3 linked regions of the Homo sapiens genome follow. The gene in region 1 interacts genetically with each later gene. Each region holds a gene or a part of one and is shown in the gene's direction. Other genes may lie near its edges.

Region 1 (11,577 bases):
CCGCTTGAATGAGTCACAACAAAAGCAGATTTAGGATTAACAAACACATGGCCTATGAGGAAAGGAGAACTTAACTTGAAATCAGTGGAACTAACTGAAATTGTTGCACAGGGCAGAACTTAAGCGGTTGGTTATCCATTGAACCACTGAACTTCTTCATGTAACTCTGGGGGAAATGGAGACCTGGAGGAGTTTAGAGACTTGGCCAGATCACTCCTTGTTAGAGAAAGGACTGAAATTCACATCTGTTCCTTAACATTAATATTAGAAAACAAGAAGACTTTGATCACTTCTGAAATTGTTAAGAAAAAAATATTGAAGGGTAACTTCCTCCCAGTAATTCATATTTTATCTGCCAGACACTTTAGGAAGGTAGGAGGAGAGGATACCAGTTGCCTCGTACTGAGCTTTGTATAAAATTTGAATGAGGACACTAAACACAAAAAGAAGTGATCAGAAGCTGTTGAGCTTATTGAGTCCAGAGACATCATCATTTGTTTCCATGTCTTCCGTTTTTATTTTTTTAATTTTTCTGTTTTTAATTTTTGTGGGCACATAATAGATTCATATATTTCTGGCGTACATGAGCTGTTTTGATAGAGGCATGCAATGCGTAATAATCACTCATGGAAGATAGGGTATCTCTCCCTTCAGGCATTTATCCTTTATGTTACAAACAATCCAATTATACTCTTTTGGTTATTTCTAAATGTACACTTAAATTATTAGTGACTATAGTCACCCTGTTGTGCTATCAAATACTGGTCCATATTCATTCACTTTAACTATCTTTTGTACCTATTAGCCGTCCCCACCTCCTGCCACCCCAACCCTTGCTGCCCTTCCCAGCCTTTGGTAACCATCCTTCTTTCTATCTCCATGGGTTCAATTGCTTTGATTTTTAGCTCCTACCAATAAGTGATAGCATGCAATGTTTGTCTTTTTGTGTCTGTCTTACTTCACTTAACATAGTGACCTACACTTCCATATATGTTGTTGCAAATGACTGAATCTCATTCTTTTTTATAGCTAAATAGGACACCATTCTGTATGTGTATCACATTTTCTTTACCCATTCATCTGTTGATGGACACTTAGGCTGCTTCCAAATCTTGGCTTTTGTGAAGAGTGCAGCAGTAAACGTGGGGGTGCAGATATCTCTCTCCTCCATATACTCATTTCCTTTCTTTTGGGTATATACCTAGCAGTGCCATTGCTGGATCATATTGTGTGATCTTGAGACCAAAAAATTATAGAACTGCTACTTTCAAGCTTTGTGACTCAAAGTGTGGTCCCAGGCACTCCTTGAATTGCAGAAACTGGGGTCCCACCCAGACCTACTAAACCGGAGCCTGCAGTGTGAGGAGATCTTCACATGATGCCCAGGCATACTAAATGAGGTGCTGCTTCAGGAACACTTGGAAGTAGCTTCAGGCAGGGACAATGCTGCAGCTGTAGAATCCCGCGGGAAAGTGAAACGCAGGGGGTGAGGACTAGGAGACTCGGACACAGACCCCTTCTTTCCCAAAATAGTTCCCCTCTTCTCTGTGTGCTCTGGTCAAGCGTTTTCATGTTAGGAATGTATTCTCGTACAGTTTAGATGTTTGAAATTGCTTGGAAGTTTCGTCGAGAAAACTGGGCTCAGAAAGGATAGGCCACTCGGGAAAAGACCTGTTGGAGATGTGAAGCTGGCAGCACTATCCAGGGCCTTCCTGAGCAAGGCACGCCTGTCCATGCCTGTGGTTGGGGGATTTTGTACAGTATTCTTACCTCATCTCTGGTTTGGTTTGTCTCTGAAGATAACTATCGTCACTATTAAGCTAGAAAATGTAGACAAAAAGACTGTCACTTAAATTTTATATGTAGATTTATGTTTTATCTCAAAAGCAGTTTTCATCTTCTAATTATATGTCTTCACTGTGGATACGTAGTTATAGCAAAAAGCATGCGTGTAATCCTGTCCAAGCAGATGATCACTTGGGATATTGATTCTATTAAGCATTTGTGAAATCAGCCTGCCTTTGCAGATTTAGCAGTCTGTGACAGAGCAGACGTTTTATATGTTTTTAGGAAGGTTAGCTGTCTGAAATTGGTGACTAAACAAAGTCTGTTTGGGTTAAGTGTACAACCAGACAGTATGATGTAAACTGTTGTAACAAGATCTTCCATTTCTAAGCCCTAATAACTATTTGTTTTCTTCTTGTTTTTAGGGTGAATCTGTAAAATATTTCCTGGATAACTTGGATAAACTTGGAGAACCAGTAAGTGTTTAAACCAAATGTTTATGTTTAGTGCCATTTGAAAGCAGAAGTCAGGATATCGATGTTAGGAAATTTAGAAAAATTATGTATTAAGCTATTTGCTTCTTTCTCTCTTTTTTTTTTTTTTTTTTTTTTTTTTTTTTTTTTTTTTTTTTTTTTTAGTGGTGGCGTTCTGATTCTTCTCTGCTTTATTTAGAGTGATTGGTAGCTCAGAATATTGAATGATTTTTATTTTTTCAAAATGAAAGTATTTTTATTGTTTAATCACGACACTTCTTTTTTCTCCCTCTAACTGTCCAGGTCTCTACCATTTTCTTGAGGAATGCTTTGTCTGCTATTTCTTGGAAGTAAAACTGTTTAGAGAAAGAAGTTTGTGTTTGAAGATGATATTGTGCATTATCTGTTATACTTTAGTATCTTTAGAGGTTTTTGTTTGTAAACAGAAATAGAACACAGTGGGTTGACTGATTTCCAAATCTTTTGACAAATGACATTTTCGAATTCATGCCCCCTTTGTGTCGAGTCACGGAGTAGGAGGGCTAGATTTAAAAGGCTGAAGAGACTCCACGAGGTAGGGGGAGTCGCCCTTGAAAAGAGAGTCTATCATTTTCCTGTAGGTATTCCTCGGAGCCAGCAGCTCTAAGCTGGCGCTGTGGCCAGCGGGGCCCACTGCAGGCAGAGCATCTCGCTTGTTTGACCTCTGTATTGGGCGTACACAGAAGAGTTCAGTGGGAGAAAGGTTTCTGCTGCTTAGGAAAATTTTGAAAGCCATTGCCTTAGAGTCATCTGTTACTCTCTAAATGTAGCACAGCTTCATTTGCCTCCTCATAAGGCAGGTTTCTTCTTCTTCACACAGCTAGTATGTGTGTGTCCTCATCAACATACTCTGCTCTGCCAGACTATTTAGCACTCGATTGCATGAAGTTCTGTGCTTCATGTGAAGCAGCCTTTAGATTGCTAACTAGATTATTAGCTTTAATAGAGACAAAGACAATAATAGAGAACTTTTTATTTTTATGGAATTACATTTTTTAAAAGCTCAGGGCCCGGCGTGTTTCTGAAGGAGCTGGCATAGGTGTATGTTGTAAATTGGTATTGCCTTCTAGAAAGCAGTCGGGTGTTAAGTATCCAGAGTCATTAAAATGTTTGTAACCTTTAACGTCATAATCGTACCCCTGATTATTTTAATCTTAGGAAATAGTCCAAAGGAAAAAAAAAATGTGCATGAGAATTTTAATTGCAGTATTTCTGTTAATTATGGCTAAAAATTGGAAACAACCTTAATGACCACTAGTAGGGGAATGTTAATGTAAAGTACAGCACGTTAATGCATTTGGTGTATTTTCTTGTCTTTTAAAATGAGGTATGATTGTATCAGCATATGGAACAGTTCACAAAATATTAAGCAAAAATGCAGAGGTAGGCTGAACGCTGTGTGCATATGCTGATTATAAATAAAGCAGGCGTGTATCTGAACAAAGCTAGAAGAAAACATGGAAAAGCTAACACTTGAGTCCTAGAGTTATTTAATGAATGGCTGTTGGTTGCCAGTAACTAAGAACCCACCTACTTTTAAAAAACTCTGAATTCTGGCCGGGTGCAGTGGCTCACGCCTATAATCCGAGCACATTGGGAGGCTGAGGCGGGAGGATCACTTGAGGTCAGGAGTTCGAGACCAGCCTGGCCAAAATGGTGAAACCCCGTCTTTACTAGAAATACAAAGAAGTAGCCGGCCGTGGTGGTGCACACCTGTAATCCCAGCTATTCGGGAGGCTGAGGAGCAGAATCGCTTGAACCTGGGAGGCGCAGGTTGCAGTGAGCCGAGATTCCGCCACTGCACTCCAATCTGGGCAACAGAGCAAGACTCCATCTCAAAAAAATATGTATATATATATATTCTTAATTCCATTGCACCATTTTGAGACAATGAGTATTCTTGTAATGAAATTTCAAAATCATATGACACTATTCAGAAAGGCATAAAGTGCAGCATTGTGAATAACAGCATTGTTTTAAATCCTGCCTTGATTTTTAAAATATTTTGACCTTGATGATAAATATTAGCTGTCCCGTTCATGTATTACCAGAAAGTTGTGTTGTAGTTTTGGAAAAATGCTAGACTGACAAGGAAGAACCAGTTACATTGCATAAGGAAGTGTGCCATCACAGAGTAGCCAGAGACTTGTGTGACCAGCAGCTTCTGTTTGTTCAGGGTCTTAGAGTTCACTGACCAAGAGTGCAGAGAAGAGCTCATTTGATCCTTGCAACAACCCTCCCTCCCAGGTATATAGACCAAGTGTGATCACCTCCATTTCACAGACAGAGGTGCTGACACTCAGAGTAAGTGACTAGTTTGAGTTCTTGGGTCAATAAGTAAGAAATTAATTATAGTAGAGAAAGGATTTTTCACACATGTAATATAGCAGCAATGAAAACATAGAAGTTTTAAGTCATGAGTGGGGTTGCACAGTAAAAGAACTTTTAGAATAGGTTAGAGAGAGGTGGGCAGAACTTGGAACTGGGAAGTGATCCTTGTGAATTGGCACTGGAATCAGATCCCATTGCCTTTTTTTTTTTTTTTTTTTTTTTTAAGACAAAGTCTTGCTCTGTCACCCAGGCTGGAGTGCAGTGGCATGATCTCAGCTCACTGCAAGCTCCACCTCCTGGGTTCACACCACTCTCCTGCCTCAGCCTCCCAAGTAGCTGGGACTACAGGCGCCCGCCACCACACCTGGCTAATTTTTTTGTATTTTTAGTAGAGATGGGGTTTCACTGTGTTAGCCAGGATGGTCTCAATCTCCTGACCTCGTGATCTGCCCGTCTCGGCCTCCCAAAGTGCTGGAATTACAAGCGTGAGCCATCGCGCCCAGCCCCCATTGCTTTTAATAGAGGAGCAAGGAGCAGTGTGGAGAAGGTAGATACGCAGACAGGAAGATCACTCTGGCTAGAACCAAGAGTGGCTGATAGTGGGGAGTAAGATTGCAGGTGGATATATAGCAGTGAGGGTGGGTAAGAACAATTGATAAGACTTCAGCTTAAATTTTGAGTAGTATTGCAGGGATGAAAACAAGTAGATTCTGGCCATTTGTAGTAAATTTTGAACCCGTCCTGCTAACATTTTAATGTATCTTGGCTTTTGTTGTGGGGAGCACAAGTGGGTCTTGCTATATTGCCCAGGATATTCTCAAACTCCTGGCTTCGCAAGCGATCCTCCTGCCTCAGCCTCCCAAAGTGCTGGGATTATAGGCATGACCCACCATGTCTGACCAGTCTTGGCATTTTATAATAAGCATAATCTATCTGAAAATGTCACTTAAAAGATCATTTTGTTTGCATATCTATTCACTAGTCCAGTTAGTAGTCCATTAAAAATTCGCATTACTTCGGGATTAATAGGTATAAAACAAGTTTTTTCTTTTCCAGGATTATATTCCATCACAACAAGATATTCTGCTTGCCAGAAGACCCACCAAAGGCATCCATGAATACGACTTTGAAATAAAAAATGTTCCTTTCAAAATGGTTGATGTAGGTGGTCAGAGATCAGAAAGGAAACGTTGGTTTGAATGTTTCGACAGTGTGACATCAATACTTTTCCTTGTTTCCTCAAGTGAATTTGACCAGGTGCTTATGGAAGATCGACTGACCAATCGCCTTACAGAGTCTCTGAACATTTTTGAAACAATCGTCAATAACCGGGTTTTCAGCAATGTCTCCATAATTCTGTTCTTAAACAAGACAGACTTGCTTGAGGAGAAGGTGCAAATTGTGAGCATCAAAGACTATTTCCTAGAATTTGAAGGGGATCCCCACTGCTTAAGAGACGTCCAAAAATTCCTGGTGGAATGTTTCCGGAACAAACGCCGGGACCAGCAACAGAAGCCCTTATACCACCACTTCACCACTGCTATCAACACGGAGAACATCCGCCTTGTTTTCCGTGACGTGAAGGATACTATTCTGCATGACAACCTCAAGCAGCTTATGCTACAGTGATGTACAAAAGACTTGCTGTTTTAATATCTTTTTGTGTTTTTGATGTTTTCTGTTTGTTTTGTTTTTTAAAATAGCAGTTTACAACCAGAATTAGAACAATCTTAATTCTACGTTTAACTTCTTGAAAATCTTAGTACTTTTTCTGCGGCCTTTGGTTTGTGGCTGAAAGCTGTTGAGTGACTCATCGCCAAGATTTGCTGTAATGCAGGCTTTGATCTGTTTCACCATGGCTTCTATTCAAGTCCAGTTAAAACCTCCCAGCTGACCTCAGACTAGGCATATTTCAGGCTTTAAATTATTCTACTTTCCAAACTGAATTCTCCTGCAGTGCCAAGTATCAAAGGTGTCCTTAAATACTTGTAGGGATGAGGTTAGGAATATTCAGTTCCAAAACAAGATATCTTCTGTCCGCCTTACATATAGCAGTGACACTTGTTGCCTAACTTTATGGTGACCTCCTATTTTGTAAGGGCTGTTAGAAGTTCTATCTAAGAAATGGCATTCTGTAGGTTTATAGAAGGTTTAGCCTTCATATTTTAATTGCTTGTATACACAACAGCTGTTTTGCTTTTAGATTTCTGTGTTTCTGAAGGTAATGTTCTTCCTGTTTTCAAGTTTACATAAGGATCTTTGGTCTGATGCTGATGAAGAGTTCACAGGTGGTATGGGAGAGCAAAAGGCAAGCTAATGCTGTTTACCGTGTTTTGGTCAAACGTAACGAGTGAAATAGAATTTGCCTTTCTCATATTTAATTATCATGTAGTTTAATGTACCATATGTGAAACATTCTGGCCATAGCAGCAACTAAAAACTGCAAGCAACTTGGTAACAGAACTTTCTAAATAAACTTAACCTGTTCCAGAATGTCATGTATTTGACTTTTAAGCCCTATCTCAGTTGGTCAGTAAAGACCAATCCTTACTGTAGGAAATCATTGTTGTATCATCACAAACATCTATCTTTTGCTGTCCTGTCCAGTCCCATCAACTCCACACTGTGCCATTTGTGGCATCGTTTTGTTTATTTGGAGTTTGCTAAGGGCAGTATTTTTCTGTCAAGACTATTCAAGAAGGCATTATTTGAGATTCCTGTTCATTCTTGGTGTGTCTCTAACAGATACAGTATGTATACATTTGTATAATTGTTGTTGTTGAAAGTCCAGCTTTTTTGAGGTATATTTTAAATGTTTTAAGGATGCTTCTAAGGATCAGTAGTAATTTTTTTAGTTCGCACCTAAAGATGATTACATTGACCTCCCCCGACTGCTTACCAAATTAAAATGTGTCCACGAAGTAGCTTTGTGATCGCAGATACATTCATAGTGAACTCATCAGAATGGCTGGTTTGCAGTACTGAAATACTATCTTCTAGGCTGTATGTAGTGCTACAATTAGAGAAACAGAAGTCCAAGGCTGGCGACAGCTTGAAAAGTCTGACAGCTTTTCTACTTTTCCTGAAAATTTTAAGACTGTGATATCTGTCATTTTACTGTATAGCTGACTGTGTACTCAGGTATTTTATTGGTCCTTGAAAGATTGGTCGTTATGGATCACCCAGCCTTTCCAAGTCAGTGGCTGTTGTTCTGTCTTGCTGTCTGATACGAGAGTGGGGCTTTTCAGTGAACTAACCAGGGATTGTTCTTGACATACCTGACTTTTCTCACATTTGAACTTCCACTATCATTGTATCCATATAACTTCTAGCATTTTCATGCCATGGTAATCCATGAGCTACACATACGTAGCCCGGCACCGTGATGCAAGTTCATGGTATCGTGCATGTTCGTGGTATCATGGTATCATTCATGCGTGTTTGAATAGTTCTACATCTAGTGCTTCTTGCCAAAAAGAATACATTGTTTAAATTCACAAAATTAGCATAATTGCAGTGCTAATGAATATCGGAATATGTGCACAGTAACATTTGGACTATTCATTGGAGAGTTTACCCATACATTTAGCAAATTGAATGGCCAAAACATTTGACTCCAGTGAGGGCTCAAGTTAGATCCCTATAGAAAGAGGACACTTCATCTTACTTAAGTCATAGTTAAGATCTGTGATACGAACCATAGATATTGCCTGACAAAGCAGAAATCACCAAGTTTCCCCCTTTTGAATTACCACCAAGAAGTGTTGAAACACCAAATAGATATCATGTTATTTTGGGCATTTGCAGTTTTCTTCCCTGCTGCATGTAATGTCTCAGAATCAACATTCTTTTAAAATCTAGACTATATTTTGAGGCAATGAATTACTTATATTCAACTTAGGCTTGTTTTGACATTCAGTAGAACTTTAAGTTCAATCTAAAGGCTTCAGTCCACATTTTTTTATACGTTGTATTTTAAAAACGTTTGAAAGGAGTCTTACACCTGTATCATGAAAACTGAATCCTTTTGAAATACCACTATATGAAGAGAGAGATGAAATTTAGTGAACAGAATTGAAAAGGTGCTCATAATTTCACTATGCAAACTTACCCCAGTCTCTAAAAAAGTAATTTAGATTTAAAGTTCTTTGATGTATTTGATTTTCTAAATCTTTATGGTTATGATTTGGAATAAAATGTGCCTAATCCTGTGTTACATTCTGTTCTTAAATCTGAATGCCTTCTCATTTAATTCTGAGGAAATATCACACAAGTGTCTTCATTGACCTTGAAGAAATGTATATACAGTTGCCTTATAAAACAACATAAATTTAGACCATAACTTTTATAGAGAAAGGGTTTTGTCAAATGTTTTCTGAAAATCTGAGTAATTCAAAGCATGCCTCTGCCCCTTTAATATTTTTAATAACCTGCATTGTTGCTGTCTGCCAAATATTAAATTGAAATCTTCATTTCAATTTTATTATCTGGAAAGGGCACTGGATTGCTCTGCAACCAAAGAAAGCAATATGGAATGAAAAAACTCATTCACTTTTGTCTTATTTTCTTTTAAGGTGTATTGGCATGTAATTTGCATAGAGAAGGTCCTCTGGTTAGTCTCTCAAATTGAGGCTGTTTAGGGAAATCCTTATTCAGTTGGTGGCAGTGGTTGGTTTAAAGTAGAAGGAAATAAGATCGCCTTAATACCAGAAATGATTAGAAGTGCTGATTTAGATTCAACAAATACCATATGTCCTTATCATTTTTTGTAAGAAGAAATTGGTTAAGTCCTAACTTTCAATGTGTACCCAAATACTTGTATTTATGCTTTTGATAAAATGTATTTTCAGCATTAATACACATCCGATTATGCCTTATTTATATATGAAGAATAAAGTTACCATGTTACACTGTTATGTCCTAAAATTCAAATCACTATTTGAGAAACCCTCAAATTGGTGCTTTCATTATATAATGATACATTTAGACAAAACCCCAAACTAAGCCATTTGAAACAAGATTCTCTCCATTGCAGTTTGTAGCAATGTTATTTCTGTGTATGTCATGAGAAGGCTAAATATCAGTGTTAATTTCTTGTTTGAATCCGTGAAATCATGCCTGTAAAGCCCAAACATTTGTAACAAACTCCCTAATAAATTTAGAGAAAGTCACTCTGTTACCATTTCATTTATTTTAGTTTTATTTGAGAAATTAAGACCAGAAGTTTTGCTCATGTCTTTTTCACTTGGAAATCTGACTTAGTACCTAGTTAATTTGTCTCTCTCCCATCATTTTAAGGCGTTCGCTTCTGTTAATCACAGATGATCTGTCCTTGTGTTGTGCTGCTTGACTAAAAGCACTGTTTTGTTTTGTTTTGTTTTGTTTTTTAATGATAGGATACAGGGTGGCTTTTCAGTCTAGTAAACATGAGGAGGGGAGAGATTGTGGGTGGGTGTGGGTGTGTCCGCATGTCCCAAATACAGCACATGCCCATTTTTTTATGGTACGAGGTTAGGGCTTATTAATAAATGTATACTAGATCTTGAAGTGTAAGTCTAAGTCTGAACATTTTAAACAAGTTGGACTTTATGGCTTTTTCAAGTTCCATCAAGTAGATACTAGTCTTAGGCTGGTAGGTGATTAACAACATCATTTGGAGTACAGTGTTTGTACCACTAGCATTCTTATGTCTGTACTTGAACGTGTAGTTAGCATTTAAGTTATGTTCACTCTTGTAGCATTCAGGTCTTACCATCTGGTTTCAAATGCGAGAGCTTATATGAACATTGTTTTGAAAGCATGAATGATATGGCAATATTTTATGTCTTGATAAGGAGAGTTTTGTGACATATACAAATCTGCTGTTGATGATGAAAGTTTACAGGTGGATCAGAGTATGCTGGAACTCAGTGTGCATAAAATTTCAGTCAGTGAATATCACTGAACGTCATATACTACTTGGTATGTGACTTTGGTTTGTGTTAAGAAAGCTTGTATATAATATTTTTTGCCATAGTAAGTGAGAAATTGTCCTTAATCATGCCTGTTTGATGGTACTAGGAAAGAAAGGGGTAGAGATTAATTCTTGCACAGTATAAGCAACAGTGCAACAAACTATGCCATTTACCTTTTACCTCTTACTTGAAGGCAGAATCGCAAAACGTTTGAAATGGCTTTTCTAAACTACTCTACTCTGGTGAGAGCTCATTTACCACAAGAAGCCTTATAAAAAAGTATATTTTGTAATAACCCCGTAGATACTGTACCTAACAAAACATGACTCGTATTAGCTCTATAAAATATTTGTGGCTTAGGATTTTTTTTTTACATATATCTTTTTATAACTTTCCAGGAACTAAGCACATTATCTGATAATTGTTGTAAATTTTTTTGTCAGTGCTTTAGTTCAGGATGGGCAATAAATTATTTCTAAAGGAGGTCTAAAAGTGGAAAGAATGGTTTGATTTTATAAAATGAGTTGCTAGTTCATTACAGCTTTTTACTTTTGTACATATTTTGCAAAACATTTGCCTCTTGCTATTAATATTTGCTTTGTAAAAATTACTGACATTTAATAAACATTTGTAAACAATTCAATACTATGATGTTATTTAACAGTTTGGTAATTGTAAAATGTAAAGCAGATACTAAAAGTTTGAAAGCAAAAGTTTCATCTAGGGCCTGAGTTAAGGCACAAATCTACTTCAGCAGAATCCCAATGCCACTTGGCTTGAATATTAGTCTAGAAACTTCTTACTAGAAATGGAGATGTGGACTTCTTCCAAGGAAGTTCTCAGACACTTAATATGTTTTGACAAGGGAATAGGGGAAGAGAAACCACTTGTTTTCTCTGCTCCTCTTATGGCCACTGAAACTGTATTAGGGTGTACCTGAGCTCAGTTCATCCAGCTGCGACAATATTAATAATTCTGTTACGTCTGTTGTAATT
Region 2 (10,133 bases), on another chromosome or scaffold:
GGCGGATCACGAAGTCAAGAGATCGAGACCATCCTGGCAAACATGGTGAAACCCTGTCTCTACTAAAAATACAAAAAAAATTAGCCAGGCGTGGTGGCAGACGCCTGTAGTCCCAGCTACTCGGGAGGCTGAGGCAGAAGAATCACTTGAACCCAGGAGGTGGAGGTTGCAGTGAGCCAAGGTCGCACCACTGGACTCCAGCCTGGTGACAGAGCGAGACTCAGTTTCAAAAATAAAAAATTAAAAAATTAAAAAAAAATTCTTGTCTTCCTTTTGAGAAATACCACGTCTTTCTATCAAACTATTTTCTTAAACCTTGTAACCTTGAAGAACATGCAAGAAAATATAAATTAAATAATCCACAATTGTATTTGACCAATTTTGTACATCATGTTATAATATACTGGGAACATAAATGAAAAAGCAAACTGTATTTACACATAGCTGTTCTTTTTGAGACGGAGTCTTGCTCTGTCACCCAGGCTGGAGTGCAGTGGCGCGATCTCTGCTCACTGCAACCTCCACCTCATGGGTTCAAGCAATTCTCCTGCCTCCAGTCCTAGGTAGCTGGTACTACAGTTGTGTGCCACCACACTTGGCTAATTTTTTTTGTATTTTTAGTAGAGAAGGGGTTTTGTCATGTTGGCCAGGCTGGTCCCGAACTCCTGACCTCAAGTTATCCACCCGCCTTAGCCTCCCAAAATGTTGGGATTGCAGGCGTGAGCCACTGCACCCAGCCTGTTCTTTGACTGGGATGAGATGACCAATCACTGAGCAGAAATATTGGATAAGAGATTGGTCGCCCATCATTTTGATGGTTGTGTGTTATTAAGCTCACCTAGTGAGAACCGGATTAAGGACTTCAAGAGATGTTCTCATTGTCAGTAAGAAAATTGGATAGTTTAATAAGAACAGGTCTGGGAAGGAGAAAAGTGAGTTGACCCTTCTATTAGCCCTTGTTTAAGAATGACAGTTGGCCGGTGAGGTTGCTCGTGACTATAATCCTAACAATGGGGGAGGCCGAGGCAGATGGATGAGGTCAGGAGTTCAAGACCAGCCTGGCCAACAAATACAATAATTAGCTGGCTGTGGTGGTGGGTGCCTGTAATCCCAGCTACTCTGGAGGCTGGGGCAGAAGAATCACTTGAAACTGGAAGGTGGAGGTTGCAGTGAGCCAAGATTGTGCCACTGCACTTCCAGCCTGGGCGACAGAGGCAGACTCTGTCTCAAAAAAAAAAAAAAGAAAGAAAAGAAAAAAAAAAGACAATTGGTAAAGATTATGTAATAATGCCTTATTGCAAATACAACTTTCTGACCTGCCTATTCATTTTTTTCAAATACACAATGGAAATACTTCCATAGGGGTAAAAACAACTTATTAAAGGGTGTTTCCACTCTCTGCAAATGTTGACTAGGTTACACTAAATTTAATATAAATAGAACTTACATTTTCCTACTTAAATGATAGAATTTTTAAACTAATATACCATCATAATGTTGTTTTCCAGGCTGCCAGAAATTGTCTAGTAAGTGAGGCGGGAGTTGTAAAAGTATCTGATTTTGGAATGGCCAGGTATGTCCAAGTATACGTGGTTTTAGGTGATGTTTGCATTTTTTTGGTGGAATTAATAAGTGTGGGAATAATTTGCACTGATGAAGCAGAAAGGAAATCTTGTTAACTGGTTCTCAGATTAAATTAAGTATATATTGTGATGGTAGTAATTCTCTCCACTAGGTGGTAGTATAGCCTGTTAAATACACTGTATTTCCTGGTGTGGATTAGATTTCTAGAATCTTTTGTTTTCACAAAAACATATTTGGTGGTGAGGTTCTTAGTATGTCCATGTCTGCAGTGTTTTTCTTCTCTTAATTTTTATAATTTAATAGTATTATAAAATACCTTTTAAAGGTATTTAGTTTATTTTTTCTCTCTTCTCCCTCCGTCTATCCATTCATTCATCCATACATCCACCCATAAAAAATCAGGTGCCTGCTCTGTGCCAGGCATAATGATAAGCTGAACCATATAGAGAATAAGACCTACAAGTCCTTGCCCGCATGCAGCTTACATTGAGGAAGAGGGTGAATCAGAAGACCTGATAAAGTTACATGATCGAGCATGGTCGATACTGGTAAACTGTGGCTGTCAGTCTGACCCAAACCTCATTTGGGTTTCACATTTTTAAATGGATGAAAAAAATGAAAAGAATATTATGACATGTAAAAAAAAATCTGAAATTCCAATGTTGCTGTCCATAAAAATAGCGTGATTGAGACACAGCCTCGCTCATTCATTTAGGTGTTACCTGTGACTGCTTTCCTGCTACAGATGCAGAGTCAAGTAGTTGTCACGGGGACTGTATGGCCTGCCAGATCTGAAATATGTGTTATCTGGCCCTTTACATAAAAGTTGACTGATCCCTGTAATAGAGATAATTTGGGGTGGTGCTGAATGATGATGCAGGGCAAGAGTGAGGGTGGCTACTTGATCTGATGTTCAGGATGACCTCTTTGTGATAGGCAGATTTGACTGGAGACGAAAAGGTAGGAAGTAGCCAGTGTAGGTGAAAATAAAAGGATAAACTATTTCAGGTAGGAAGAAAAAGTGAAAAAGCTTGAAGTCTGGGACACGTCTGGCCTGCTCAAGGAACGGAAAAAGCGCCAGGGTAGCTGGCCAACGGGCAGCGCCAGGAATGCTCATAAATGCAGGCAAAGACCAGGCCATGTAGGGCCAAGTTTAACTCCTAAGGAAACTCAGGCCCAGGGAGATTAGAAAACTGTTACTGTCAGAAATGGGACCAGAACTTCCAACTCTTAGGATATTAATTACCCAATGCTCTTTATTTGCTTTTATATACAGATACTATATATTTGACAGGCTGTCTGCCGCTTTCATCTGTTCAATCTTCATATGTTAGGCTTTCAGAAAATCTGCACTTTTGTATCAACCACTCAAAAACCTCTTTATACCCTAAATTCAGACTCCACTGGCTGACAGTTTGATCCAGCCCACAGTGGCATTGTCTGCCAGCCAGCAGCTGGCTTTGTGCCGAGTCACCATCTTTGTCTACATAGCAAAGGATGTTTGTGCAATTCTTCGAAAATTTTCTCATGGAACCTTTTAGAAATTAATGGTATATTCACACACAATACAGAGATACATTCCTTTTGTAAATATGTGCTGCCCACCTTACAGAAAGGGCTGAAGTCTTTTCATCTACCAACCCTAATCAAGGATTCTCCCCTAAAGTTAGCTACTGTTACCAGTTTTTGTATGTTCTTCCAGAAGGACATTGTATGTTCACATAGAAAAATTATATAGTATTGTTTTGAGTGTATGTATGTATGTGGGGATGTTATGTATAAATACATACTCCACCATTTACATGTGGCATTTTGTGTTGTGTTTTTGTTTTTGTTTTTTTGCATTTGCTATTTTCATATGCTGTAGTTTTAAATTGTGCTCTGTGGAATTGGAGGCCTGAAAGCCTGTGTGTTTCTAGATGCTTTATACCACTTCCTCTGGAGCAGCTCTGCTTTAGATTTTTTACATATGGGGCCTTTGGGTAAAATTTTATTTAAAGAACAAAATTGCTTACAAAGAAAAGCTTGCAAACTATTTTATGATACCTTGTCTCTACTGCCTTATAAAAAGAAAGAAAAACAGAAAAATGAAAGTGCAGATGGTAACGTGGTGATGGATCCATCTCATGCACTTAAATTAAGCTGAGAGGAAGTTGGAAATCACCAGGTGTGGCCACTGAGGTGAACATTTAGCTTCAACCGGATGCTTGTTGGACTTCAGTCAACTGTGTTTTTGATTGCAAGGGGAAAAAAATGAAAGAGCAAGTAGAAAAAACAGATTGTTCTTCAGAGGTGTAAACCCATGGTGTGTCTTACTCTAGGTATGTTCTGGATGATCAGTACACAAGTTCTTCTGGTGCTAAGTTTCCTGTGAAGTGGTGTCCACCTGAAGTGTTTAATTACAGCCGCTTCAGCAGCAAATCAGATGTCTGGTCATTTGGTAAGATCCATGTTTCCTCATGTCCGTCCGCCCTGAGGAGAAAGTGGATACATCCATTTGGTAATCCTTATCCTTTTCCAGGTGTTTTAATGTGGGAAGTATTCACGGAAGGCAGAATGCCTTTTGAAAAATACACCAATTATGAAGTGGTAACCATGGTTACTCGAGGCCACCGACTCTACCAGCCGAAGTTGGCGTCCAACTATGTGTATGAGGTGATGCTGAGATGTTGGCAGGAGGTATAGATTTTTTGTGTGCTTTCTTTTTGAATCTCTTAGGGATTGGGCTTGGTAGATGGATAACATGCAGTCTTTATAGCCTAGTGAGGTGGTGCATCTTTATAGTGATTTCAAGCTCTAGGTAGGAAGCCAACCCTCTCAACTCAAGTTCTGAATAACGGGAAGAAGAATGTAAAGATGTGGAAAATGCTAATAACTACCTCGATACATTCAGGCTGCTTCCTCACTTCCAAGTGGGACTCCTTCCATGGTTGCCTGAGATAGGGACTTGGGGAATAAGCCTGGATAAGTAGCTCTTTTTTCATTGGTTCACTTGTAGAGTTGAAGTATTATTTTTTTACCAGAGTTGGTTTCTTTCTCTAAACCTCAACTTTCCGAGGTCTTTGAAAGTATTGAAATGTTACCTCCTAAAAGAGATTAGATACCAAATGACTTCTGAAAGACAGTAACATTAGCTCACATGTATTATGTACCAGGCACTATACTTAGTGTTTTGGATTTAGTTCTCAAAACAACACTTTGAGGTGGAGATACTTTGACTGTAGCCACTCTGTAGATGAGAAGATTAAGGGTCATGAGGTTGCTGCTTGCCTGGGGTCACTTAGCTACAGAACAGTATAGGCCTGTCTGATTCCAAAGCCCAGAGTCTCAACCACTTGCTGTACTGCCTCCCAAGAGCATTGATTGGGATGGGCAGAGACATTCTGGGCAGGAAGTGGTGCTAAAGGGAGAGAGAACAGCTTGAGCAAAGGTAAGGAGGTGGTTATAAACACAGTGTGCACAACAGTGGAGACAGTGGCCCTATTTAACAGACAGCCCATGTGAGGGATTTTGTGGGGAACAAGATTGGGTAACAAGAGGGTCGGGAAGTGGCAGATTATAGAGGCTCCTACAAATTTGCAGGACTTGATTTCACAGGCAGTAAAAAGATCTATCAGGGTCTTGAAGAGAGACATGAAAGCAGTGTCTTAGAAACGTTAGCCTAGCAGCAGTACATGCAGGGTAAATTAGGGTAGAGACAAGACCCCTTTGGAGATGCCTGTATGTCCTAGTCCCAAAGCAGTGAAGTCTCTCTGTAATATGCTGTGTTTAGGAGTTGGAGCAGTGAGAGGTTTTGTGGAATGGATTCTGGAACCCACAGCTTCTCTTTGACTTTTAATTGTAGAAACCAGAGGGAAGGCCTTCTTTCGAAGATCTGCTGCGCACAATAGATGAACTAGTTGAATGTGAAGAAACTTTTGGAAGATAAGTGATGTGTGACCAGTGGCTCCCAGATTCCCAAGCACAAGGAAGGATGGGCATTTTGTGGCTTTTAATTTATTGAGCACTTGGACATGTAGATCATTTTACTTATACAGTGGAAACACATAAATAATTTGCTTCTAGACCAGCCTCTGTCTAGACTTGCTTCTAGACAGAATCTCCCAGAGTGTGGAAATGTTGCCTTAGAAATGGTGATTAAAATCACTCATTTCTATTCATTCCTCAGGCACTTGAGTGACAGTTGTTTACCAGGCACTGTGTGTAGCCCCAGGGTTTGGCCATTCAGGGGTGCACACATGGGACCATGTTAGCTGATGCCAGTTGAAGGCCAGGGTATTTGGGAAGGGGAAGGGTATTAGAGTCATGACCAAGCAACCCTTCTTTTTCCCTTTGACTTCTACAGAAATCTGGGCCTGAGACATTGTCTACAATTGGGTTCTAGATACATCAGGAACCCATCTTGGATAAATAAATACCTATCTTTTGTTTTGAAAACATCTCAGTTTTCAAGACTGCTCTTAGTATTACATGAACAATATTTGTATGCTGTATATATTGTAAATATATATAATATATAAAGTTATATATTTATGAGAAACACGAATTGTCTTTTAATTGAAACTTTTAATCCTGTAGTATAGGAGTTCACCTTCTTAGGACTAGAGACTGTGCCTTATAGCTGTTAATTCATTTCCCCCTGAACATCAAATATGCCTGAAGAGAAGAAAGTCTAGATTCTTCTATGAGTAACGCCCCCTCCTCACTCAGGTAAATGTGTCTGGGGATGCCTGTCCAGCTTAACCACGTGCATTTGGCCTATGTAATCCTGCCCATGGTGGCCGCAGCTAATCAGAATCAGATGGAAAATTAAACCGGGTAATCTACTTCTAAGCCTTAAGAATATTCCCTGGGACACAGACACTATAATTGGAAGTGCTGAGCTCTGGGGCAGAAGGATCAGGTGACCTTCGCAACAAAGTTTGCCCCCACCTCACATAGGACCCGGAAGCAGCCTGAGCTGTGGCGGAGGATCCAGGAAGCTACGGAGAGAAGCAGCCAGCATGGTGTTCCGTGCCTCCCGGACGTTTTTCAGGAGGCCTGGTTGGACTTGGGTTCCTGGATGGTGGGATTGTTGTACAGCCTCTCAGGAGACCCTGCTGTCAAGACTGTGTGTGTGGATTTCTCACCCTTAGAAGCTCTACTAAGACATCAACGGAATTAGGGCCTTCCTTTTTGCCTTGTGAGCGCCAAGGAAAAGAAACTATCTCGGTCACGTGAGCGCCAGCGAAAAGAAACTGTATCAGTCATCCAGAGACCGTTTATTGCCCAACACGTTATTCTTGCTGTTGGTGGGGTAACTAGCCGAGGAAGACACAGCGCCTTCCCTTCAGGAGTTGCGTCTCCTCTGCAGGCCACGATGGTCTGCTCTGGAGCATTGGGTGAACACACAGGCTGGCTGCTCTGGGCAGCGCCTTCACTCTGACCCTGGAGAACCATTTCATTTCATCCTGGTCAGTCTAGAGTCTGTGCACCAGGCAGTCCATCCACTGAAGGCTGTGTTTATTCTTTTCCTGTGCCCCTCATAATGGAAGAAAGTAAACTGCTTATCCCGAGCCTTATCACAATCTGCCACATTCCTTCTTGTCTACCTGTTTAACTGTACCCCCATCACAAAAACAGGCACAACTTTTTTTTTACATTCCAGGGTACATGTGCAGGATGTGCAGTTTTGTTACATAGGTGAACGTGTGCCATGGTGGTTTGCTGCACCTATCAAAAACTCATCACCTAGGTATGCATTAGCTATTTTTCCTGATATTAGCCTGATATATATATTTCCTGATATTAGCCTGGCATGCATTAGCTATTTTTCCTGATGCTCTCCCCTCATCTGCCCTCCCCAACAGGCCCCAGTATGTGTTGTTCCCCTCCCTGTGTCCATGTGTTTCATGGTTCAGTTCCCACTTATAAGTGAGAACATGTGGTGTTTGGTTTTCTGTTCCTGCATTACTTTGCTAAGGATAACGGCTTCCAGTTCCATCCATGTCCCTGCAAAGGACATGATTTCATTCTGTATAGCTGCATAATATTCCACGGTGTATATGTACCACATTTTCTTTATCCAGCCTATCATTGATGGGCATTTTGGTTGCTAACCATGCACAACTTTTAACTGACTTGTAGCTCATTGAAGGAGTCGGTCCTGGCACACTCTACCTTACTATCACTGTCAGCCTTTTCTCCTTCCTTCCTGACCTTCCCTCCTCCCATCCCATACTTCCCTTTTCACCTTGAGGAGCTACGGGAAGTACTAGGTGGTATGAAAGAGAGTGAGGAGAAGATAGAGTCCCTGTCCTAATGGTCAGTGTATGCTTTTTATGGGAAAACAAGATAGATAGCACCTGGCAACATTTGTCAACATTTCCTTCAAAAATCTTTAAATATTTTTCACTAAGACTTAGAAAAAAAGTTTTATACGAAAGCATAACAAAGGCAAAAGGTGAAGTAAAAATAACAGTCATCACCCAGAATGCTAAGGAGACCTTAATCTAAACCAGGAAATTGGAAGGGCGATTAGAATATGCTGTGTCTTCATTAAAGTTGCTCTGTTAATTAGTTGACACATGGTTATGCTTTCCAGTGGGATGAAGTGAAACTCCCAAGTGTGTTTTGTATTGTTGGTGTTTTTATATTTCTCAGCCATCCCCCAATCACATTTTAGGGTTATTACTAGATTGACTTCCCCCAAATAAAGTGTCTGCTGAGTGGGAGGATGGAACATTCTAAACTCAATATTCCAGAGCCTAGAATCTAATTGTTTCTGCCACTCACGGTGTGGCCTTGGGCAAGTCCCTTATTCTGTCTGTGCCTTCATTTCCTTCCCAGTCCAGAGAGGGCAGTTTGATTTGATAATTTTAAAGGTGCCTTTTACCAAAATTTTGTGATTTCTTGAAAATGATGTTTGCGAGTCACCCACACCTTTGGGGATGAGAGACTAATAGCAGATACCCTCAGAGATTGGGATGGAGATTACTGAGCTTTCTTATATATGCCATTGGTTGTCATTTATACTCTTCTGAGGTTTTCAGAACAGGAAAATAGGTGGGGTTAACTCTGCCCGTGAGAAACATCTTGAGCGAACTATGATTTCAGTTGAAAGATGTGTTTTTGTGAGTAGAGCACCGCAGAAGAACTGAAGACTGTTGTGTGCTCCCCGCAGAAGGGGCTACCATGATCCTTTCCTCCTGTGAGTAAGATGGGCTTTGTCATTTATTTTTGGGGCTTGTTCTGGGGCCTGTTATTCTTGAACAGCAGAGGAAGTTTTTTTTTTCCAAGGCATAGAGCTTGGGGACATTAAAAGATAATTTCCTCAGATGTTGTGACAGAGTTTTGTTTCTTATTTAAAGAACCACAGTGATGATGTAATTCTAATAAAGGTTCAGCATTGAGAACATAAATGAAAGAAAAACAGAAAGAGTGTCCAGAAATCTGCATATGTGTGTGTAGAAATGCAATCAGTATGAAGTACTTGTTTTTAGAATGAGACTGTAATGAGCTCTGGGCTGAAGGCCAGGAGACCAAGTTCTAGTTCTGGATTTGCTCCAGCAGTGGTGGATCACAGTGGGCAACTTTATATATATATAAATACACACACATACACACACACACAAATAAATATCTATATTTAAGGCAAAAGGAAGAGAAGTCAAAACACAACTGTGTTTATACTCTGAAATTATCTGCTTTATCAAGTAAACATATAGACTTAACCTTTATTTTCACAGGGGTATTTATTCACAATTCTATGTAGACTTCCGTTATCGAGGACCTTTCCCAAGCAATTGAAATTTAGGCAAAACTGATTCTTATCTGCAGTCAGAGCCTGAGTAAAGGCCAAAATAAGAGTCAAAGTCACGAGTCTCTACCTGGTTAAAAGTGTGAACATGGTCAAGTGTGAACACTGGCTCAAATGTCTCTTTCCCTCATATATAATACTACATATGAAGATGTTATTTTAATATTTTTATAGAATATAAGACCATCATTAAAAATAAGTGCTTGTTTTAGGAGAACAGAGAAAGATTCCCTAGACACTGTTATCTGTGAAGATCCTTGGTTTGAAAGAGCTGTGGGGGATGCTTATAAATCCAAAGAAATTAGAATAAAAAAAAAAACCAAGCAGAATAGTCTTCTAAATAAGAAGGCAGCCGTCATATCAGAATTGCAATGTGTTTGTTTCTTTATAAAGGTATTTATTGAGCACCTACTATGGGCCATGGTCTATACCAGTTCCTTTATATTCATTATCTGAAATCTTCACTACAAACTGGCAAGGTGAAAATTGTTATTCTTATCTAGCCAATAAGAAAATTGTGCCTTTGAAAGTTTAAATCTTGCCAGAAACTCATATGGTTGTCAGACGCAGGATTTAAGTATGAGACTTTTTTTTTTTTTTTAGACAGAGTCTTGCTCTGTCACCCAGGCTGGAGTGCAGTGGCACGATCTCAGCTCACTGCAACCTCCACCTCCTGGGTTCAAGTGGTTCTCCTGCCTCAGCCTCCCGAGTAGCTGGGACTACAGGCGCATGCCACCATGCCTGGCTAGTT
Region 3 (8,602 bases), on another chromosome or scaffold:
GATTACAGGCGTGAGCCACCATGCCCCACCCATAATAATCTTAAGGGACCATCATCATGTATGCAGGCCGCCATGTCTTTATGTGCTGCATGACTATAGCTCATGCACATGATGACGGGACCATGTCCAGGGTGACTCCTGGGGGTGGGAGAATTGCATCTATGGTTACCACCTCTACTTTCTTTTTACATGGGAAAATACTAAGTTATTCCTTCAGTGGAGAAATTGGTAAAAGGAATGAAATTTACTTTTTTCTTCCCACTAATGAAATTTTTAATGATGAAGTTAATATTTTTGAAATTTGGGGGCTTGTACCTGTAATGTAAAAAGGGCTTCTTTTCTGTTTTCTGAAGTTTTTGTTTTGTTTTGTTTCATTACGTTTGAATAAAAAACCTATGGGTTTTATTTCACAGAAGGTGGAGGAAAGTTACACCATTCTTTGCCAAAGGCTGGCTGGATCAGCCCTCACAGACAAGCACTCAGGTATGTAAAAGTTATGAGTTCCAGACTCTAGACTAATCATCCTACACTGAATGAAATGACTTATCATACTTTGAAGTGAAAACCTTCTGAGATTCCATTTCTCTTCTGTCTTTAAAGAACTGCCTGTTTCTAAACATCAGATATCAAGCGGAAGCTCATGCCTGCTGACTCTACTCTTCTCTAAGAGGAACTGCAGTTGTCAGTTCCCATACCATCCCCTCTTCTCTCTCTTTTCACCTTTTCAAAGCAGAAGGCAGAGCAGTGGGAAGCCTGGTAAATCACAGATTCGGTGTGAGGCTTACTGGTACTGCTGTGACTCCCTAGTGTGGAGGATTTGGCCTTATTGGATGTTGGTGCACTTGCCTCTGCTGACAGTGTGGCTGGTGTCTCCCCTGACTGCAGATGGATTTGTGTTCCCTGCAGCAGTTTATACTCATCTGCTTACATACTGATTCAGAAACAAAGATTGAACCACGCCCACAGATGTCATGGGTATTCTTTGCAATGTTAGTATATTCTTTTTCTTAATATCATTTCCATGTATCTTTATTCTTCTCAGATAAAAGTTAGAGCCGCATGTCCTGGAGGTGACTGCAGGTTGTTGGATTTGGAGTATCGGCCGTGTCTCACCACATCCTGGCTCCAGTGTGGATGCAGAGAGAGTGTGACAGAGGATCTGCCTGTGAACCACCTGGGATTAGTCAAGTCCCAAGGTGCCCAGAGTGGGACTAGTTCTTCACAGTGTGGCAGCTGCACTAATCTGTTTGTGAGGGAATATCCATTCCCTCACTCTACTCTCCTCACTATCGGAAATTCATTTTGATTCAGAATAAAAACCAAATGTATAGAGCTTTGGGTGTAGGATATGAAATTGTACTTAGATTTAAGAAAAAGAGAAAATCAGATGTATTTATTTGACTTCATTCCGTATTTGAAAGCACATTTTAATTTTTATTTGCCTTGTTTTGTTTTAATTGAGTAGTGAGAGTTTTAGACCTTTGTCTTTAGTACACCCAAGGATCAACTGCTCCTGAAGCAAAGAGGTCAGGATGGAGTATGCAGAAGTTGGGTAGAGAGGTTAAGAAGAGGAGGAAGTGAGACGGGGAAGGGAGGAGCACCTTGCTTCACTATACAGTATTCCAAGCTCTCTGCTGTCCAGTAGGCTGCTTCTCTGAGGGTCACCTCAAAGGTATGCTATGCCGTGTGGCTCTTATGTGCCCAGGTGGTGTGGTCAGAGAGTGGATGGGCTTCCTCCCGCCCTGAGGCAAGCACCTCTTCTCTGTAGCTGGGATCAACCACAATTAATAGGAATCCTCAACATACTAAATAGCAGGCACTTGAAAATGGGTGTGTTTTCTTCCATTGTCGTCTTTTCTATTGAGGGTTGGGATTTGGGTGGGAGAGGAAAGCAAATTTTATTTTCTTGACTATAAATTTGTTATTCTTGGTATCATTTCATTTTTATAATTATACATTAGACATTGGCACTTGTGTAAAACTGTCCCTGCAGATTGAGCAGGAAGTAAAAACAAATGGAAATGCTTCGGATAGTGGCAGGGGTGGGGGTTGCTAAGGAAAGGGTGGGATGGGAGTGGGTAAAGAGTTTGGGAAGGTTATCTAACTGAATCACTACTGAGTTGAATCATGGCTATCATTAGCCACAGGTACTGCTGATTATAAGGCCAGTAAAATTTTAGTACCTGGAGGTTTGACTCTAATTTTTGCACTGATGGTGCCAAAGGGCCCTGAGTCAAAAGGATAGCCAAGGGTGGAGTGGAAAAAGATATGGTGAAGGCAGAACTGCTCACACCAGCTCCAGAAGCACGTCCTCTGACTTCACTGCCGCAGCTCTTTCCACACGGGGCCGTGATTGACCCTAAAAATTGCAGACCAGCACATACACTGGACACTGCAGGCAAGGTGTTGGTAACTGCCTGCTCTAGGATGAATAGTAGCGTTAGCAGCACCCTACAGAGGGTAAGTTTCAGAATTGTAATTTGAGAACTCCTTCAATTATATTGACTTTCTTTGGTTTTCCTTGTGCATTAGGTATATATTTTTTGAAGTATTTTTGCCAACTAAAATGAAGTCTGTAAATTCTGTTAATAAACAAGGAGTTCATCCGTTGCTCACATCTTTCATTGGTGCCCTCTGAACTCTGTGGGTTGCTAGGATGTAATTTTAATGCTTCCCTGCAGTCCAAAGATGATTTTTTCACCACAAATGGTAAGGGATGCCCACCTACTTTTATAAACACCACTGCAACTTAACAAGTTTATTTATCTATGTCCAGATTTCTGTTTCTGTCCTAAATTGATCTGTGTTTTTAGGTGGATCAACTTGGATCTTTAGACCTCATCTATAAATTGAAATTATATTTTTAGTCATAAGCCAAGTACAATCTAACTCAGAATGGGATTAAAAATTTTAGAAGCAGAAGCTAATATATAAATGAAGTTTGGGATTTGGAACTTTCTGTATCTCTTAGGAGGAACAAGTAAAAACCAAATGGTTACATTGTGCTGCTAGAAATAATGTCATTCTCAATTAAAAGGGTTACACCTGTAGCCACTTGACACTAACACCATCGAGGGCAATTAATCAGGAGAAAAGTAAATATAAAAACTTTGCTCTTAACGTCACACACTACAGGGTAATTATGTAATTCTCTAGCACTCAATTAAGAAGCTTGTAGGTTAGCAAAATTTCAGTTTCTCTAGTTCAGCCAGTGTCTTGTCCTTAGTAATTATTTGCTTTCCCTGCAGTTCAATTTCTCCTTGGAACTCTAACAGGACTAACTGGAAAAATACTTTGACCATAGCTCTAGTACTTCCAAATAAATTCATATCTAGATTTTCAAACAAAGCCCCAAGATGAAGTCTAATTCTGAAAATATCTCACAATTTTTGAATGTTCTTTTTATCTTACCGACCTAACTTCTCTTTTCCCTCCCAACTTGGCCTCCCACACGTTCCATTTCATTTTGGCCATTATAGTCACATCCGTTTGACTTTGGTTGTGACATCTTCCTTTCAGGATGATGGAATTAGATGCAGTCTGTCTTTGAGTGAGACTGGTCACCATCAGAGGAGTTTTTTCTAAGTGACGTGACTAGAAGTTGAAATCTACTTCCCTGCTAAAGGGCACAGGGGTGGTGTACAAAGAAAGCTACCTTCCCAGAGCAAGCAGGCTGCATTTTAGCTATGGAAGTGACCTGCTGTGACACTGTGCTCTCTTCTGTGGGCTTAATGGTTCCTTTGCTATGAAGTGGCAAATTACATGTAGAGTGTCTCCTTCCTTTTCAGAGAACAGTTAATCAAGGCAAATCAGCAAGCCCCCAAAGTGCTGTAATTTAACATCATGATTACCACCTTCGAAGCTATATATTTTGCATACTTTAAAATCACCTAACTTGGACTGCTTGAATTACATTGGCTTTTAGAACCGAAATTGTAACTATGTATTGTATTTCATGGGAGGTATATTTTATGAGCTTTTTGGCTTTCTTTTTTCCCACAGCAACTGCCAATGAAGGATGAATCCCCTTTTTAAAAAGTTGTTGTTGTTGTTGTTTATTTGATTTTGAGTTAGGAGGGATAATAGAGAAGTCCATTTAAAAATTATTTTTAGAAGCTAAAGAAAGTAATTATGCTTCCTGTGAATTGTCTTTTACTGGCATCTTTGTTTTCCTCTTTGATGTTAGTAAATTTGGTGTAATACGTGGGGCTTCCATATTTCAAAGTGGAAGCTTTCTTCTCTGAAGTCGATATATGGTTTTGAATTACTAGAGCTTTGGTCAGTATTTCCTTCCCTATATGTCACAGAGGGCACCACTGAGAACTGCGTGCATAGGACCTCAAAATACAAAATTAGCAGGGCCTCACAGTCAGCTTCCTCATGGCTAGTTTTTCCCCCTTATATTACAATTTTTGTTTTATAAGTCATTTTTTTCCTGATATTTCCACCACTTTTCAGAGTCATCTACAAAATTTTTCTTTCCTCAAGAAAAGAGTTCCTTTTGCCTTATTCCTTATGCCTTCCCCACTGGTATTGAGGGTTTTGATAATAAATTGGTAGGAAAAAAAAGTACCTCCTAGAAGGAAGCCTTCCCCACCATTTCCAGGTGCCAACTGCTAAGCAGATATATTCCAAAAATGGTAACTGTCATGTGCACACTGTTGGTTATTTTTAATAAGCCTCTTCCTACTAGAACATTTTATTTTCCTTGTTCACCATACAATCATGTACTCTTTAACAGAAATTGCTTTTAAAAAATATCTGGAACTATCTTTAAAAAAACTTTATTAATAATCATGTATTTTTACTGATCACATTTTGAAATGCCTAAAAGACTTTATTGTTCTAATTATCCAGATGTACCTTTGTAAAATAGCTCTTTTATGAATTAGCTGATAAGGCTGTATGTTTCTGGAACAAAATATTGGTCATCTAAAAACTTTCTGTTTTCTGGGGTCTGGGAAAATAGAAAATAAGATTTCAAATATTAAATAAGCTTAAAGGAACCAAGCATGTGACTTTTTATTTGTATTCTGGTTGATTTGTCTTGTCCAAGTTATATTAGAAAAGTTGAGGAGTCGAGGAGCCTGTAATTAATTTTCCTGTCAGTGACTGTCAGACATCTTCCTGCTTATTAGAGCATCCCTAGCAACAAGGCTAAACCTTCATGACAGTGCTGGCAGGTGGGCTTGCCCTAGCATGTGGGGCAGGTTTGTTGTTTTTTTAATAGCTTTATTGAGATATTCACATATCATATAATTCATCCATTTAAAGTGTATAATCAGATGGGTTTTGGTATATTATTGATTTTTAATTGTGGTGAAATATATATATAACAAAATTTGCTATTGTAACTATTTTTAAGTATAAAGTTCAGTGAGGTAGGCCAGCTTTTATGACGCACCTGAAGATAACTTTGGTTTTAATCCTACCCTAAATGAAGCATATGCCTCTATTTTTCCTGTCCCCAGTGCTGGGCTTCTTCACATACCAACATTTCTGTGCTTTTACCAACAGCATTTTAGCTCAGAAGGCTCGCTTACTTTGGGCATTTGCTGTATTTTGGTTTTGAAATACTTGTAATTTGACTTATTCTTGGGATAATATTTTAGTTTTCAGTCATTCAAGGGCACATTTGGCTGACGGAGCTAATAAGCGTAATAAAATGCTTAGTAGTTTATACCATCTTTTAGTTAAACATTTTAAAGATTAAGACTATTCAAATGTACTTTGCGGAAATTAACCTGTTTGTATGCCTGGCTTTGTTTACAAACATATATCTATATCTATATATATAGATACAGATACAGATACATATCTGGTGGAACAAAGAAATACCTGTACCATTCCCACTTGCTCTTTGATAGCCACCTCCTAGGAATGGAGACAATAAAACTCTGTATTTGCATGTGAGCAGTTACTTCTATTTTTTACTGCCCTCTTTCAAGCTAAATGACTGGTTTACCAAAGGTTTATTACCAACTTCAAATATAAGAGGATCTATCCTGATTAAAAAGTTGCTTTTTAATTGAACTCGTTATCTCCTTGATGTTTTATGACAAATGTCATAAAGCATGAGAGATAAGTAGCTGGATGTAGGTGTTTCCCATTTTCTCTATAATGTCAAGGATAATTCTTGTTACTAATTGGAAACACTTCCTCAACTTTAGCTGTCAGGGAATATGTTTGTTTTGCCACTTATTTTTACTAGTGAGACATCATCATTCCCTTAGCATCAGCAGAGGCCTTGGTTTGAGATCATTTAAGGTATGTAGAGCTCTCTTTCTAGATTTTCCCCCTCAATTGATTAGAGTGCTTTTGGACCGACCTGTAATTTAAGGCATTTTATTTTAAGGGATCTTTTTCTTTGTACGTGTGATCAGAGGGTTGTGGCTGCCTGAACACATGCTAATCAAAAACACTAATTAGGATACATTTTGGTAATCTTTTAAAAACTTTCAGGGAGGCATCTGTACAAAGACTTTTTTTCTGCTATCATTATTTTAAATATTAAAGGCAAATAGCATGACATAATGCAACACTTTTCAATCTTTTTGATCTCACGACCACTTTTTAAAAAATGTATATCTTTTTTTGTGTGTTGTTCTTGTTGTTGTTGTTGTTTGAGACAGGGTCTTGCTCTGTCGCCCAGGCTGGAGTGCAGTGGCACTAACGTGGCTCATGCCGCCTCAACCTCCTAGACTCAAGTGACCCTCCCTCCTCAGCCTCCCAAGTATCTGGGATCAAAGGTGTGAACCACCAGGCCTGGCTAATTTTTTTTTATTTTTTGTAGAGATGACATTTCTCCATGTTGCCCAGGCTGGTTTCAAACTCCTGGGCTCAAGCAAGCCTCACCCTCCCAAAGTGGTGGGATTACAAGTATGAGCCACCACACCTGGCCAGGACCACTGGACACTCTTAAAAATGATGAAAGACTTCATGGAGAAGCTTGTATTCATGTGGATTATAGCTATCAATTGTTACTGTATTAGACATTTAAAAGAAAATAGAAATGAGGAAAATGAATTTATTTAAAAATAGTAAACCCAAATACATGTGAACATAAATCACATTTTTATGAAAAGATCACTATTTTCCACAATTAAAAATTGAGGTTTATGTAGTTTTTGAGATCTCTTTAATGTCTGGCATAATAGAATACAGCTGGATTCTCATGTATGCTTCTGCACAATCTTTTGTGATTTTTTTTTCTTTTTTTTTGAGACGGAGTCTTGCTCTGTCACCCAGGCTGGAGTGCAGTGGTGCCATCTCAGCTCAGTGCAACCTCCACTGCCGGGGTTCAAGCGATTATCCTGCCTCCCGCATGAAATGGGGTTTTGCCATGTTGGCCAGGCTTGTCTCGAACTCCTGACCTCAGGTGAGCCACTGTGTCCGGCCCTGTTGTGGTATGTTGAAGTATATAAAGAAAATCCAGGTTCACACGGATACATATTTTTAAATGGAGAAATATTGGAATAGCCTTTTCAGATAATTATGGATATTCTTCTTTGATACTGTACAAAATTTGGCAAGTGATAGTTCCTTCAAAGATAGCTGCAGTGTGGAATCTGAAATCCTATCAAGGAAGTTTTTGTACTCTGTTAAACTAAAAATCCACTGATCCGTTTTACACTTTATTTATGTGAAGAGTGGTAACTTTTACCCATGCATGATTTTGTAATATCCTGTATTGGTCATTTGGAAAATACTGGTTTACTGAATTATGCAGTTCTTCCAAATATTGACACATTTCTTTATATAAATATCAAGTCACATTTGTTAATATCACAACTGATATCAGAAAAGTCCCATGGTAAATGCAAATTTCACAAAATTCTAATGTTTCCTTGGAATCTTGAATTTTATCATTGGCAACAAATACAGTTTTCCTTGAAATGACAGCCTCACTTTTTTTAATTTTTGAGTGAGAAGATACCTGCCAAATATTCAAGTCTGAATGGCGATTGCTTACCAGTCATTCTTTCATGTTAAAATGGTCTTCCTCCATTTAAAAAAAAAAAAAAAGTTGGGCACGGTGGCTCACACTTGTAATCCCAGCACTTTGGGAGGCCAAGGCGGGCCGATTACGAGGTCAGGAGATCAAGACCATCCTGGCCAACATGTTGAAACCCCATCTCTACTAAAATACAAAAAATTAGCCGAGCATGGTGGCGTGCGCCTGTAGTCCCAGCTACTCAGGAGGCTGAGGCAGGGGAATTGCTTGAACTCGGGAGGTGGAGGTTGCAGTGAGCCAAGATCGCGCCACTGCACTCCAGCCTGGTGACAGAGTGAGACTCCATCTCAAAAAAAAAAGTAGCTAGTACCTTTCCTTCAGCCACAACCATGGTACTTTGTTATGTGGCAGGGTTGCTTGATGCATACTTACCTTTTTTTCCTCACACAAAATATTAAAAAGATGTGTACTCAAGGGTTGAGATTTCATAAAATTATTAAAATTTACTGCTTCGTCAAGGACATTCTTAAGTGCAACTGGCAGTGTCTATTGCAAGTCAGCAGCAGTAACAGATACAGTGTTAATGAAATTTGGTACAACAACTTTGATTCCTGCCAAGTCACCAGCAGCTTCACCCTCTATTGATTT

The links.
Region 2: of GNA13 (region 1) and TEC, changing one enhances a phenotype caused by changing the other (phenotypic enhancement), as found in Homo sapiens cells (one study listed by BioGRID).
Region 3: of GNA13 (region 1) and ARHGEF12, changing one enhances a phenotype caused by changing the other (phenotypic enhancement), as found in Homo sapiens cells (one study listed by BioGRID).

What each region holds. Positions count from the first base shown.
Region 1 is NC_000017.11:65,008,937-65,020,513, reverse strand, and holds the end of GNA13 (guanine nucleotide-binding protein subunit alpha-13), read left to right. Parts: intron 1-2,210; coding exon 2,211-2,261; intron 2,262-5,684; coding exon 5,685-6,257; 3' UTR 6,258-11,225; downstream 11,226-11,577. UniProt on the Homo sapiens protein: Guanine nucleotide-binding proteins (G proteins) are involved as modulators or transducers in various transmembrane signaling systems.
Region 2 is NC_000004.12:48,132,795-48,142,927, reverse strand, and holds the end of TEC (tyrosine-protein kinase Tec), read left to right. Parts: intron 1-1,508; coding exon 1,509-1,573; intron 1,574-3,905; coding exon 3,906-4,024; intron 4,025-4,105; coding exon 4,106-4,263; intron 4,264-5,428; coding exon 5,429-5,512; 3' UTR 5,513-7,145; downstream 7,146-10,133.
Region 3 is NC_000011.10:120,484,025-120,492,626, forward strand, and holds the end of ARHGEF12 (rho guanine nucleotide exchange factor 12), read left to right. Parts: intron 1-413; coding exon 414-483; intron 484-1,042; coding exon 1,043-1,053; 3' UTR 1,054-5,913; downstream 5,914-8,602. UniProt on the Homo sapiens protein: May play a role in the regulation of RhoA GTPase by guanine nucleotide-binding alpha-12 (GNA12) and alpha-13 (GNA13). Acts as guanine nucleotide exchange factor (GEF) for RhoA GTPase and may act as GTPase-activating protein (GAP) for GNA12 and GNA13.